Homo sapiens: one gene and its partners. The protein of the gene in region 3 purifies or fractionates together with the protein of the main gene of each other region. This does not show direct contact. Each region holds a gene or a part of one and is shown on either strand. Other genes may lie near its edges.

Region 1 (3,531 bases), on a different chromosome or scaffold from region 3:
CGCCTCGTGACTTGCTTTAATAGATAGACTAATCTGGAAGGGATGCAGTGTAACTTAGGAGGTTCGGCCATTAGAGATTTGCAGCTTCTCCATGCTTCATCTGGGAACACGCATTCTGAACCCCGACATTGTGCTGTAAGGAACAAGGAAGCTCAAGGAACTACAAGGAAAGCCCCATATGGAGAAAAACTATGGCCCTAGTGAACATCCTCAAATGCACTCCCAGCCCACAGCTCCTCACCAGCTATGTGAGGGAGAACACGATGCACCTTCTAGCCATGCTCTCCCCAGTGGAGTGGAACTGTCTAGCAAGTCACAGAATAACACAAAAAAGTTGTTGTTCTAAGCCTTTAAGTTTTGTGGTGTATGCTATACAAGAATAGATTGCTGAAACAATAAGAAAAGAAATGCCCTTACCTGTTTGGCTGGAAACAGACCTGGTCATAACCTGTGAGTTCACACAAATCCTTCTCAAGCTCTCGGAAAAGCTGCTGATATCCTTGAGCTTGATCCAGAGGCACAAAGGGGTGGATGTTTGCAAATTCTTTCCATGTGATAGGCTGAAAAGAAAGAAAACAAAAATGCATATATACATATTATAATAGCAATAGCAATAATAACTTTAATAATAATGACGATGATGAGAAAAGCTATGTGCCAGGCACTGTTCTAAGCGCTATACATATGTTAATTTATTTAAGTTCCACCACAACCTTATAAGGTAAGTACCGTTACTGTCTTCATTTAAAAGTGGGACATAGTTGTCCAAAAAGGGAACTTACACAAAAATACAATGTTTTGCTAACTTTTCAGGGAAGAAAAGCCCCCAAAACAGATTTCTTTCCATGAAACACAATGAGTTGCTTCAGGTATGGTTGGCATAAACTCTTATATAGCAATAGATTGTTCTCTTTCTTCACTAAGTGGAACAAGAAACAAACACAAAAGTAAATGGGAAGGCCAGGTACAGTGGTTCACACCTATAATTCCAGAACTCTGGGAGGCTGAGGTGGGAGGACTGCTTGAGGCCAGGAGTCTGAGATCAGACTGGCAAACACAGCAAGACCTTGACTCTATTTTTTAAAAAAATAGAGAGGGAAATATTCTTATCATGATATAAAATGATTTCTTTCGTCTGATATGATATGTCACTTCAGAATAAACGTAAGAAATGAAAGAAAGAAAAAAAAAGCTTCGCTAAAATGGATCCTGGCCTAGTAGAGATACTTGCCAACCACAACAGCGAGTTGCACAAATCTTCTGTTGACTTGAATCCCTATCTTTCTGATACAGGAATGATTTCTAGAAAGACGGCTTAAGGTTCGTAATTCTACCTGAGATTTAGAACTATAAACAATTTTTTTTAAAAAAGCTTTTAATATGACAGGTTTAAAAGGGGGTGGGGGTGGGGGAGGGATAGGATAGAAAGGCATAAATACCATATACATTTAATTAATTTTATTAAAAAATAATAAGTTTACCCATACATTTAAATGATGAAGTCGTGAGAAATACAGGGTTACTCCCAAGATTGGTGAATAGCAAGGTAAAGAATTATTAAAATAGTTCTTCAATCACAGAATCACAGTCCCAGTAGATTTCACTAGTTCTGGGCTTAGGTGGAAGCTAGAACACTGCCCCTTGCTGAGTATCCACTTACAGAAGTGAGCTACTTACTGCGAGTTCAGACGAACTGTTCAGTTTCATGGTGCAGGATCCCTTTAAGAAGAACATCCAAAATGTATCACATTAGTGATTTTCTATAGTCCATCAATCAACCCTCCATTCTCCCAGCATGGCCACCCCTTTGTTGCTCTTGGAGCATATTAGGTAGGACCAAGAGACGTGGGATTGGGGTAGCTTGGAAATGAGAAAAAAGGCCACAAATAACTACCAGTGGAATCATGCTGTGAACAAGGGAAATGTCTTTATTTTCCAGTTTCTTCATGTACCGGACAATGTTTGTTTCAGAGTGGTAGCTGTGAACACAAAACACAGAATTAGGGGCCCCAAAAGTAGATATGAGTCCATGCACATCCTCCTGACATATAAGACACACCGAAATCTACTTTCAAAATGCAGATCAATTTTGGCCACGGACAATATGTCAACTACACTCAGAGAGAAGGGCACAGACCCCCACAAACCTCAGAGGATGTCTTGGACAAGAAGCTGACTGTGGGTATGAGTTGAAGGTTGGGAAGAAGAGGATATAGGGCTCTTGGGAGTGAACTTCAGCCTGGCAATTATTCATCCCTGCTTCCTGACTGCCAAGGGAGCAGAGCCACCAGGAAACAAAGTGTGCTTTTCCCAAGTCAGGAACGGGATCGTTATGAGGATGAAATACTTGGGAGCCACGGCTGAGCCAGAATAACCAGGCCACAGCAGGCGAAATCAGCAGCAGCACTCTGCCTAACTCCCTAGCTGATTACCAAAGCACAAAACGCAGAAGTCACACAAGACACACAAACCTGTTGAACACTTGATGGGTGAGGAACGGGCTGGTCCTCTTGAACACAGACCCTGGAATACCTCTGCACTCCTCTCCCATGCTTTCAGCAACCAGTTCCTGAAGGAGAAACACAGAGATGATAGGGCCAGAACTGTGCCTGGAGCCACATGTGGACATCCAGGCTTCTGGGTGGCTGGGCCACAAAGCACTCAAAATGGATCAAATATATAATTTTACTTATTTATTTATTTATTTATTTATTTAATATTTTTGGAGGCAGGGTCTTTCTCTAGCACCCAGGCTAGAGTGCAGTGGCACGATCTCAACTCACTGTAGCCTTGGCCCTACTGGGCTCAATCCTCCTACCTCAGTCTCCTGAGTAGCTGGGGCTACAGGTGCATGCCACCACACCTGGCTGATTTTTGTATTTTTCTAGAGACGATGTTTCACCATGCCGCCCAGGCTGGTCACAAACTCCTGGGCTCAAGCAATCTGCCTGCCTTGGCTTCCCAAAGTGCTGGGATTACAGTCATGGGCCACTGAGCCTGGCCAAAGATGTAAATTTAAAAGCTAAAACTACTAAAACTTAGAAGAAAATAGGCCAGGCGCGGTGGCTCACACCTGTAATCCCAGCACTTTGGGAGGCCGAGGTGGGTGGATCACAAGGTCAGGAGATCGAGGCCATCCTGGCTCACATGGTGAAACCCCGTCTCTACTAAAAAATACAAAATTAGCCGGTCGTGTTGGCGGGTGCCTGTAGTCGCAGCTACTCGGGAGGCTGAGGCAGGAGAATGGCGTGAACCTGGGAGGTGGAGTTTGCAGTGAGCTGAGATCATGCCACTGCACGCCACCCTGGGCGACAGAGCAAGACTCCATCTTAAAAAAAAAAAAGAAAATATAGGGGCTAATCTGCATAACCTTGGATCTGGCAATGGTTTCTTAAATGTGACACCAAAGGAATAAACAATAAACATATATAAAAATTAGATAAATTAAATTTCTATAAAATTTGAAATGTGTGTGCATCAAAGAACATTATCAAGAAAGTTAAGAGACTGACTACCCACAGAATGGAAGAA
Region 2 (3,531 bases), on a different chromosome or scaffold from region 3:
GCCACCATGCCTGGCTAATTTTTGTATTTTTAGTAGAGATGGGGTTTCACCATCTTGGCCAGGTTGGTCTTGAACTGCTGACCTTGTGATTCACCCGCCTCAGCCTCCCAAAGTGCTGGGATTACAGGCGTGAGCCACTGCACCCGGCATTTTTTTTTTTTTTTTGGGAAGATCTCTTATTGTACTTCCCTGTAAAATCCATTACTGTTTTATTCCAATTGCCTAAAATAGTATCTGGCTTTTAGCAGACACTCCATAATATAATTGTTGATTGAATGAATTTGGGGTTTTTGCACCATCTTCTACACTTCATATTTTTATGCTTTTTTCCTCCTTGTCTTTTCTTTTTTTTTTTTTTGAGATGGAGTCTTGCTCTGTCGCTCAGGCTGGAGTGCAATTGTGTGATGTCGGCTCACTGCAACCTCCGCCTCCCGGGTTCAAGCGATTCTCCTGCCTCAGTCTCCTGAGTAGCTGGGATTACAGGCGCACGCCACCACGCCCAGCTCTTTTTTGTATTTTTAGTAGAAATGGGGTTTCACCATGTTGGTCAGGTTGGTCTTGAACTCCTGACCTCATGATCCGCCCGCCTCAGCTTCCCAAAGTGCTGGGATTACAGGTGTGAGCTATCACGCCTGGCTTTTTTTTTTTTTTTTTTTTTTTTTTTTTTTTTTGAGACAGAGTGGTTGCTCTTGCTGCCCAGGCTAGAGTGCAATTGCATGATCTTGGCTCACCGCAACCTCCGCCTCCTGGCTTCAAGCAATTCTGCCACCTCAGCCTCCTCAGTAGCTGGGATTACAGGCATGCGCCACCATACCTGACTAATTTTGTATTTTTAGTAGAGATGGGGTTTCTCCATGTTGGTCAGGCTGGTCTTGAACTTCTGACCTCAAATGATCCACCTGCCTCAGCCTCTCAAACTGCTGGGATTACAGGCGTGAGCCACCGCCCCCGGCCACTCTTGTCTTTTTTTTTTTCCCTTTTTTTTTTTTTTTGAGACAGGGTCTCCCTCTGTCACCCAGGCTGTAGTGCACTGACACGATCTTGGCTCACTGCAAGCTCTACCTCCCGGGTTCAAGTGATTCTCCCACCTCAGCCTCTGAGTAGCTGGGATTATACGCGTGTGCCACCATAGCCTGGCTAATTTTTGTATTTTTATTAGAGATGGGGTTTCATCATATTGGTTAGGCTTGTCTCAAACTCCCAACCTCAGTTGATCCACCCACCTCTGCCTCCCAAAGTGTTAGGATTACAGGCGTGAGCTACAGCACCCGGCCCCACCTTTTTTTCTGAGACAGAGTTTTGCTCTTGTCACCCAGGCTGGAGTGCAATGGCACGATCTCGGCTCACTACAACCTCCACTTCCCGGATTCAAGTGATTCTCCTGCCTCAGCCTCCCAAGTAGCTGGGATTACAGGGACCCGCCAGCATACCCAGCTAATTTTTGTTTTTTTAGTAGAGGTGGGGGTTTCACCATGTTGGCCGGGCTGGTCTCGAACTCCTGACCTCAGGTGATCTGCCTGCCTTGGCCTCCCGAAGTGCTGGGATTACAGGCATGAGCCACTGTGCCTGCCCTTTTTTTCATTTTTTCATTTTTTTGTACAATAGGGTCTCCCTCTGTTGCCCAGGCTGGAGTACAGTGGTGTGATCAGGGCTCACTGCAGCCTCGAACTCCTGGGCTCAGGTCATCCTCCAACCTAAGCCTCCCAAATACATTGGCCTATAGGCGTGCACCACCACACCCAGCTGATTTTTATATTTTAATTTTTAATTTTGCTGTGCATATTTAGCTGGGATTACAGACGCACTCCACCTCGCCAGGCTAATTTTTGTATTTTTAGTTGCAACGGGATTTCACCATAGTGGCAAGGCTGCTCTGGAACTCCTGACTTCAGATGATCCTCCTGCCTTGGCCTCCCAAAGTGTTGGGATTACAGGCGTGAGCCACCGCTCCTGGCTGGCTTTGTAGAACCTTAAACATATTTATCTATCTTAAGAATTTTTCCCAAGGAAATACTTCATAAGGTAATATTTTAAAAATCAAAGCTGTTTTTAGCTGTTTTCTTTGGAGTTGTAAATAAACAGCATTAGAGAAATGATTGGCTGGGTGCAGTGGTTCACACCTATAATCCTAGCACTTTGGAAGGCTGAGACGGGAGAATCTCTTGAGGCCAGCAGTTTGAGACCAACCTGGGCAGCATAGAGAGATCCCTTCTCTACCAATAGAAAAGAGAGAGAGAGAGAGGCTGGGCACGGTGGCTCACGTCTGTAATTCCAGCACTTTGGGAGGCCGAGGCGGGCGGATCTCGAGGTCAGGAGATCGAGACCATCCTGGCTAACATGGTGAAACCACGTCTCTACTAAAAATACAAAAAATTAGCCGGGCGTGGTGGTGGGTGCCTGTAGTCCCAGCTACTGGGGAGGCTGAGGCAGGAGAATGGCGTGAACCCGGGAGGCGGAGCTTGCAGTGAGCTGAGATTGCACCACTGCACTCCAGCCTGGGCGACAGAGTGAGACTCCGTCTAAAAAAAAAAAAAAAAAAAAAAAGAGAGAAATTATTAAGTAAATTGTGGTATCATACTTGGATATTGAGATGATTAATGTGTTGACTCTGTGGCTGTATAGAAAAATGTTTATGGACAAATGTTAATATGGCCAGTTGAGGTAGCTCAAACCTGTAATCCCAGCACTTTGGGAATCCTCAGGAGGATTGCTTGAGCCCAGGAGTTAAAGACCAGCCTGGATAACATAGTGAGGCCCTACTTTATTTTAAAGGAAGTTAATAAAAGAAGTAGAACAAATTATATGTCTCAGTGGTAGTAAAATTCTGCTTACATGTTAATGAAAATTTTGAAAGGGCACTTAAAACTAGTAAAAAACTCATTTTTAGGGTAATACAATTGTAGTAAAATTTAAACATTTAAATTTTATGATCGGAAGATGGTAGTAAATCAGAAATGGCTTTGGAATTTCTTTCATTGCAACCTTAATAGTAAGCAACAGTCTTTCCCATGAAAGGGACAGAAAAAAAAGAATGTAACGTCTACATTTTTTTTTTTCTTTGAGACGCAGTCTCACTCTGTGGCCCAGTCTGGAGTGCAATGGCACGATCTTGGCTCACTGCAACCTCCGCCTCCAGGGTTCAAGCAATTCTTGTGCCTCAGTCTCCCAAGTAGGTGGGATTACAGGCACTCACCACCATGCCCGGCTAATTTTTGTATTTTTATTTTTATTTATTTTTATTTTTATTTTATTTTATTTTATTTTTGAGACGGAGTCTCGCTCTGTCGCCCAGGCTGAAGTGCGGTGGCGCGATCTCGGCTCACTGCAAGCTCCGCCTCCCGGGTTCACGCCATTCTCCTGCCTCAGCCTCCCGAGTAGCTGGGACTACAAGCGCCCGCCACCACGCCTGGCTAATTTTTTTGTATTTTTAGTAGAGACGGTGTTTCACCGTGTTAGCCAGGATGGTCTCGATCTCCTGACCTCGTGATCCTCCCGCCTCGGCCTCCCAAAGTGCTGGGATTACAGACGTGA
Region 3 (3,531 bases):
TTGCCCAGCCTGGTCTCGAACTCCTGGACTCAAGCAATTAGCCTGCCTTGGCCTCCCAAAGGGCTGGGATTACAGGTGTGAGCCTTTGTGCCCAGCCAGGCTGCAACAATTTGAACAGGACAAAGCCCCAGCTGTCTCTACTGAGATACGCAGACCCCAAACAGGGAATTTCCAGGGGTACAGGAATTAGGAAAAGTTGAGTCCATGGCATACAGCTAGGCATACATCCAGGTGAGCTCACCATGTCTAGGGATCAGGAAAGGCTCTCGTGGGGTGTGATGTGTAAGCTGAGATCCAGAAGAAAGGGTAGAAACAAGCCACATAAAAAACGGGAGGGGAGAGGCACCCAGACAGGGGCTAACTTGTTAAATATGGCTCTGGGGGGACAGAGTAGTAGGTTCAAGAAAATTAAAATGGCTGGATGTGGTAGCTCATGCCTGTAATCCCAGCACTTTGGGAGGATTGCTTGGGCCCAGGTGTCGAGACGATAGTGAGAGACCCTGTCTCTACTACTACTACTAATAATTTTAAAAGCCTGGGCAATGTGGTGAAGCTGTTTTTAGAAAAATTAGCCAGGCATGGTGGCATGCACCTGTAGTCCCAGCTACTTGGGAGGCTGAGGTAGGAGCATTGCTTGAGCCCAGGAGGTCGAGGCTACAAGTGAGCTGTGATTGTGCAAGTGTACTCTAGCCTGGGTGAAAAAGTGAGACCCTGTCTCAAAAATAAAATAAAATAAAATAAATTAGCTGGTCATGGTGGTGCAGGCATGTATAGTCCCAGCTACTCAGGAGGCTGAGGTGGGAAGATCACTCAAGCCCAGGAAGTCGGGGCTGCAGTGAGTTATAATCATGCCACTGTACTCCAACCTGGGTGACAGAGTGAGACCCTGTCTCAAAAAAAAAAAAAAAAAAAAAGAGAAGAAAAAAGAAAAATTATTAGTAGGGCCTCTGAGTGTAAGAGACCAGGGGACAAGAGCTCAGGAGAAAACTGGAGGGGTGGGGAAAAAAGACAAAAAAGACAAAAAAAAAAAAAAAAAACCTGGAGAAGGGGGCAGGAGCAAACCCCAGGAAACCTTCACAATAACTCATGGACCTGGAAAAAGCAAGCCTCAAGGACTCCAAGTGGGGGCGTGGCATGATCAGAACTGCTTTAAACAATCGCTCCAGGAGAAAATCAAAGAAGGGGCAAGAGGGGACTAGATTTACACATGATTTACACACATATATGATTTATACACATATGCCACATATGCATAGACCGCCTCTCAAAGGTGCCTGCAAACTCAGTAAAGTGGCCGAGCAGGGTAGCTCACACCCGTAATCTCAGCACTTAGGGAGGCAGAGGCAGGAGGATCAATTGAGCCCAGGAGTTTGAGACCAGCCTGGGCAACACAGTGAGACCCCATTCCCCACAAAAAAGGAAAAGCAATCGGTAAAGTGAACACCTCAAAGGACGGGCCTAGAAGGCTGAGGGATGAGGAGCTGGGTGGGAGGGAAACTCGCTTTCATGGCATGCCCTTGTAGACTCTTCAGATTGTTTACCATGTGCAGGTATTTCCAGCTAGAAAGAGTTTAATTAAATGATCACTCCGGCTAACATATAGCAAGTGGACTACAGGAACAGGCAAGAGTATGTATAAGTTTCAGAAAACTATATGGAAAAGGCTTCATGACATGTCTCTAAGGGAAAGAAAACTAAAGTGCCACTGTACATTTTAATTTACACGCTCAGAAAAAAGGCTGGAGAATTACCCATTAGTCCTAAAGTGATGACAGGTGAGCAAGGGAATTACAAATGATTTTAACTGTCTTCTCTCTGATTTCCTGTTTTCCCCATGTTTTCTACATGAACATGTTATAACTTTAAAAATAAGGAAACGACATTTTTGGAAGGGGGAACGGGCCCACCTTATGCAGACTGGTCATGCCGTCGTCATCCACCACCCTGGGGTTGGACCCATGTGATAGCAGGAGCCGCGCGATTTCAGTGTGCCCGCAGTAGCTGGCTCGGTGCAGAGCAGTGGCACCCCCGTGGGTCTGGGCATCACACTTAGCTCCGCTTTCCAGCAGGAACTGGCACACAGCGTAGTGCCCATTGCGGCTGGCATAGTGCTGCAGGGAACAGAGACCGAGGTCAGATGGGAGAAGCCAGGCAGGTGACAAGGGTGGTATAGAGGTGAGAGCATGGCCTCCCTGCAGCGAGGGGCCTGGAATCATCTCAGGTGCCAACCCCAGCAGTCGTGTGACCTGGGCAAGCTTCTGCGTGACTAACCTGAGTTTGTTCAATTGAAAAATGGGGAAAATGATCATTCCTATCTCAAAGAATTGTTACGAAAATAAAACTAAATCATTGGCTGGGCGCAGTGGCTCATGCCTGTAATCCCAGCACTTTGGGAGGCCGAGGCAGGCGGATCACCTGAAGTCAGGAGTTCGAGACCAGCCTGGTCAACATGGTGAAAACCCATCTCTACTAAAAATACAAAAATTAGCTGGGTGTGGTGGCACATGCCTGTAGTCTCAGCTACTCAGGAGGCTGAGGCAGGAGAATCGCTTGAACCTGGGAGGCGGAGGTTGCAGTGAGCTGAGATCGCATCACTGCACTCCAGCCTGGGTAACAGAGCAAGACTTCATCTCAAAACAAAACAAAACCTAAATTATTGATGTAAAGGTCTCACACTAATTTAAAAAATCCAGGTTCATATGATGCTTAAAAAGAGAAATTTTGCTGGAAGAGAAGAAAGGGAGGGAGGAGGTAAAAGGTAACCATCAGTCCCCCTCCTCAGAGAGCAGGTGTCTCCTGAGTTAACGCTTCTGTCTCCTGACCCTGTGCTCCTCCCTAGCTCACCAGCGCAGTGTAGCCGGCCGAGTCGGGCTGACTTGGGTCCTCGGCCTTCTGGATTAAATGCTTCACTCGGCCCAGGTCTCCATTCAGGGCTGCCGACCAGATTCCTGCAGAAAGGCAACCAAAGGACTGAATGATGCTGAATGGGAGTTTCAGTGCTTGCTTTGCCTCTTGACCTCAGTTTTCTTGTCTATAAAGTGAAGAATATTCATTCCTTCAACAAATATCAACCGAGCACCTCCTCTGTGTCAAGGTTTGTTCTGAATGCTGGTGACTTAGCTGTGAACAAGACAGATGGGCACATCTCATCAGGACAGTAGGACTGGGCGGACACAGACATCTCCATCCCACTTCAAACACAGAAGTGCTGGATGAAGTAATGTTTAAAATGTTTGGATCTAGAGTGAAATTCAGGTCGGGCTGGGATTACAGGCGCCCACCACCATGCCCAGCAAATTTTTCTATTTTTAGTAGAGACAGGGTTTCACCATGTTGGTCAGGCTGGCCTTGAACTCCTGACCTCAAGTGATCCATTTGCCTTGGCCTCCCAAAGTGCTGGGATTACAGGCGTGAGCCACCGTGCCCAGCCAGAAACAACTTTTAAAAAATATAATGATGCCTCCAGAAGGCTGCCAAGGCAGTGTGACAATCTCCCACAGAAGAGGATCTCCCTGGTGAGCACAAAGACTG
Region 4 (3,531 bases), on a different chromosome or scaffold from region 3:
TTGAACCTGGGAGGTGGAGGTTGCAGTGAGCTGAGATCACACCACTGCACTGCAGCTTGGACAACAAAGTGAGACTCTGTCTCGGAAAAAAAAAAAAAAAAAGTGGAAAAAAAAATCAAGGGCTGCTCAGAACCCTATTTAGTATTGACAGGAAAAGAAAAAATTTCTCTTCCAACATTATGAGGCACACAAGCCTCACAGGCACAGCGTAAATAACTACAAACTGTATTAACTGAGCAACTGTAATGGATTAATGATTTAAAATCTTTCTTCAAATCAAAGTAAATGTCCCTAGCTTTGTGGAGTAAACTGTTCTAAAGTAATAGTAAAATATTATAACCCCAAAGAGCCCTGTACACACACCTACACACACCATCGGAAATGAGACAAAACTTAAATTTGAAGATGAGAAAAACTTCAGCTGGGCTTTTCATCATTTCTTCAAACCGTAGCTCTCTTCAGCGTGAGAAATAACCATCTGTTTCTTATTTTCAGCTTTGAAATTTGATGACATAAACCAGAAAGCTGTGTTCTGATGGTGCTTTCTGAGTGGGCTTGGAGCCATAAGGACCCTCTCTCCTTTCAATGCACTGCCTGTTCATTTTGGTTTACTTAGGAGACAGAAGGGGAGTTGCAGGGGGGTCCCCAGATCCAGGTTTTAGTACTGATTCTCACATAAATTTATTGCATGTCCTTGAAGGGGCAGGCAAGGGTGTTTTGAGGGCTTACTAAATGCCAGGTGCTTTTTACATGTCTTTTTTTTTTCTTTTTTTCTTTTTTTTTTTTGAGACAAGGTCTTGCTTTGTCACCCAGATTGGAGTGCAGTGATGTGATCTTGGCTCACTACAGCCTCAATCTCCTGGGCTCAAGTGATCTTCCAGCCTCAGCCTCCTGAGTAGCTGGGACTATGGGCACACGCTACCACACCCAGCTAAATTTTTTTTTTTTTTTTTAGAGATGAGGTCTCACTATGTTGCCCAGGCTAGTCTCAAAGTCCTGGGCTCAAGCGATCCTCCTGCCTCAGCCTCCCAAAGTGCTGGGATTATAGGCGTGAGCCACCATGCCCAGCCTTACATATCGTCTTAATGAGCACTTATAACAACCAAAACGTAGTATGCTTATCCTCAATTCCTATGAGTAAACATTTATTGTGTGGTAATATTTTAGTGCATAACAATTGCAGGATCAAATTCATTCTTATTTCATGATCTGTGAGTTTATATATATGTGATGGTGGGGCTAGAAGTTCCTATATCATCACTTCACAAGTTAGGAACCCCAGTACTCCAAGAAAGGAACTAGGAGGCACCATGCCTGGCTAATTTTTGCATTTTTAGTAGAGATGGGGTTTCACCATGTTGGCCAGGCTGGTCTTGAACTCCTGACCTCAGGTGATCTGTCCGCCTCGGCCTCCCAAAGTGCTGGGATTCCAGGCATGAGCCACTGCACCTGACCTTAGCTATGTCTGCCCAGCACCTTCCCTCTTCTGCGTCCTCAGGGGAACCCCGCTTCTACTCTATTTAGTCCTGCTGGGGCTGCCACTGAGAGTGTTGCAGTCCTCTACCTCACAGGATGGATACTTGACCCAAAGAAGACAGTAAGAATCCCCCATCCTCTTGCAAGGAATGGGGCAACTCAAAAGAGTCCATATGAGGAATGAAGCCAAACTCAGACAATTAAGGTGAGAGACTGCAAGAGATCAAAGGGCCAGGGACACAGTAACATTTTCTTTTTAAAGCCAACTGATGTTCTTTTTCAAGTTCAGATACTTTAAGCTGATCACCTACAAGCAAACAAATCCTGACAGTTTTCTCAAGTAAATTATTATTATTATTATTTTTGAGATGGAGTCTTGCTCTGTTGCCCAAACTGGAGTACAATGGCGCGATCTTGGCTCACTGCAACTGCCACCTCCTGGATTCAAGTGATTCTCCTGCCTCAGCTTCTCGGGTAGCTGGGATTACAGCCGCCTGCCACCACGCCTGACTAATTTTTGTATTTTTAGTAGAGATGGGGTTTCACCGTGCTGGCCAGGCTGGTCTCGAACTCCTGACCTCAGGCAAACCGCCCACCTCAGCCTCCTAAAGTGCTGGGATTACAGGTGTGAGCCACTGGCACACATCCCCACCCACCCAATTTACTTTGTTTTCAAGAAACCAATTTACTTTGTTTTCTCAGGTAAATTATTTACTCTCTTCCTTTTTCTCTCTGTAGGCTAGTAAGACTCCAATCAAAGTTGATACATTGTATTTACATCTCCTCTACCCTAAGGTGGAAAAAGGATAAACGGAGTTCATGTGGTCTAAGGTCGGAGTTCACGTGGTCTAAGGTCGGAGTTCATGTGGTCTAAGGTCAGAGTTCATGTGGTCTAAGGTCGGAGTTCATGTGGTCTAAGGTCGCTGTACTGTCTGTCCAAAAGAGCAAGGATATTCACCACTTATAACGGAAATCTATCAACTTTGGTCAAATTGAAATTTCAAGCATAACCATTAAGAAAAAGTGTATAACATCCACATTAGTAGAAAAAAAAGGTGAATGATGAAAAATAGCTCCAAAGAAGGGAAGACAGCTGTAATGAAATGGAGAACTGTCAGGACAAACAGATTGAGAGCATAAAATAAGGCAGACCTAAACAAAAATACATCAGTGGTGCTATTAATGAAAATGGACTAAATGTTCTAATTAAAAGACAGAGAAAGTCAGGGTTTTCCCTGACTTTAAAACTTCCTTATAAGTTTTCCCAGGGTTTAAAAAACCAAAACCCAATTATATGCTATTCATAAGAGACTTACCTAAAACACAGTTACAGAAAAGATGCAACTAATGGAAAAAAAATACCTTGTGTAGATTTTTAAAAAGATTACACTATCAGGTAAAGTATAAGGCAAAAAAAAAAATTATTAGAAACAAAAAAGGCAGCTTCATAATGATAAAAAGTGAATTAAGAATTAAGAATTAAGAAGATAAAACAACTTTATATTTGTATATGCACCTGATAATACGGCCTTACAGATATAAAGCAAAAAAAAAAAAAAAAATTAAAAGATGAAGTAGACAAATTCATAATTATACTTGGATATTTAAACACATCCCTCTATAATTCATAGGAAAAAAAAAAACACCCAGTAAGGATAAAGAAGATTTGAACACCATTAACAAACTTGATCTAATGGCATTTCATTGGACATTGAATCCAATAACTGTAGAATACATTTTACTTTCAAACACACATGGAACATTTATAAAAACTGACCATAAACAGAGCTCTAACAGAAGTATCAAGAAATTTCAAAGGATTAAAATTATACAGCTTCGAGCACAGTGGCTCACACCTGTAGTCCTTCCAGCTACCTGGGGAGACTGAAGCAGGAGGATTGCTTGAGCCAGGAGTTCAAGGCTGCAGTTAGCTATGATCACACCACTGTACTCCAATGTGGGAGACAGTGAGACTGTCTCAAAAACAAACAAACCAACCAACCAAAAACAGAACAAGCTCACTGACCACAGTCATAATTAGTCATAAATAAAGGA

Evidence for each region.
Region 1: the proteins of ANKRD39 (region 3) and GLDC purify together in Homo sapiens (affinity purification with mass spectrometry; one large-scale study listed by BioGRID and IntAct). This does not show direct contact.
Region 2: the proteins of ANKRD39 (region 3) and TBCE purify together in Homo sapiens (affinity purification with mass spectrometry; one large-scale study listed by BioGRID and IntAct). This does not show direct contact.
Region 4: the proteins of ANKRD39 (region 3) and FBXO10 purify together in Homo sapiens (affinity purification with mass spectrometry; one large-scale study listed by BioGRID and IntAct). This does not show direct contact.

Annotation. Positions count from the first base shown.
Region 1 is NC_000009.12:6,586,724-6,590,254, forward strand, and holds part of GLDC (glycine dehydrogenase (decarboxylating), mitochondrial precursor), read right to left. Parts: intron 2,570-3,531; coding exon 2,472-2,569; intron 1,980-2,471; coding exon 1,895-1,979; intron 1,720-1,894; coding exon 1,678-1,719; intron 561-1,677; coding exon 418-560; intron 1-417. UniProt on the Homo sapiens protein: The glycine cleavage system catalyzes the degradation of glycine.
Region 2 is NC_000001.11:235,370,402-235,373,932, forward strand, and holds part of TBCE (tubulin-specific chaperone E), read left to right. Parts: intron 1-3,531. UniProt on the Homo sapiens protein: Tubulin-folding protein; involved in the second step of the tubulin folding pathway and in the regulation of tubulin heterodimer dissociation.
Region 3 is NC_000002.12:96,851,494-96,855,024, forward strand, and holds part of ANKRD39 (ankyrin repeat domain-containing protein 39), read right to left. Parts: intron 2,949-3,531; coding exon 2,845-2,948; intron 2,112-2,844; coding exon 1,908-2,111; intron 1-1,907.
Region 4 is NC_000009.12:37,566,375-37,569,905, forward strand, and holds part of FBXO10 (F-box only protein 10), read right to left. Parts: intron 1-3,531. UniProt on the Homo sapiens protein: Substrate-recognition component of the SCF (SKP1-CUL1-F-box protein)-type E3 ubiquitin ligase complex. Mediates the ubiquitination and degradation of BCL2, an antiapoptotic protein, thereby playing a role in apoptosis by controlling the stability of BCL2.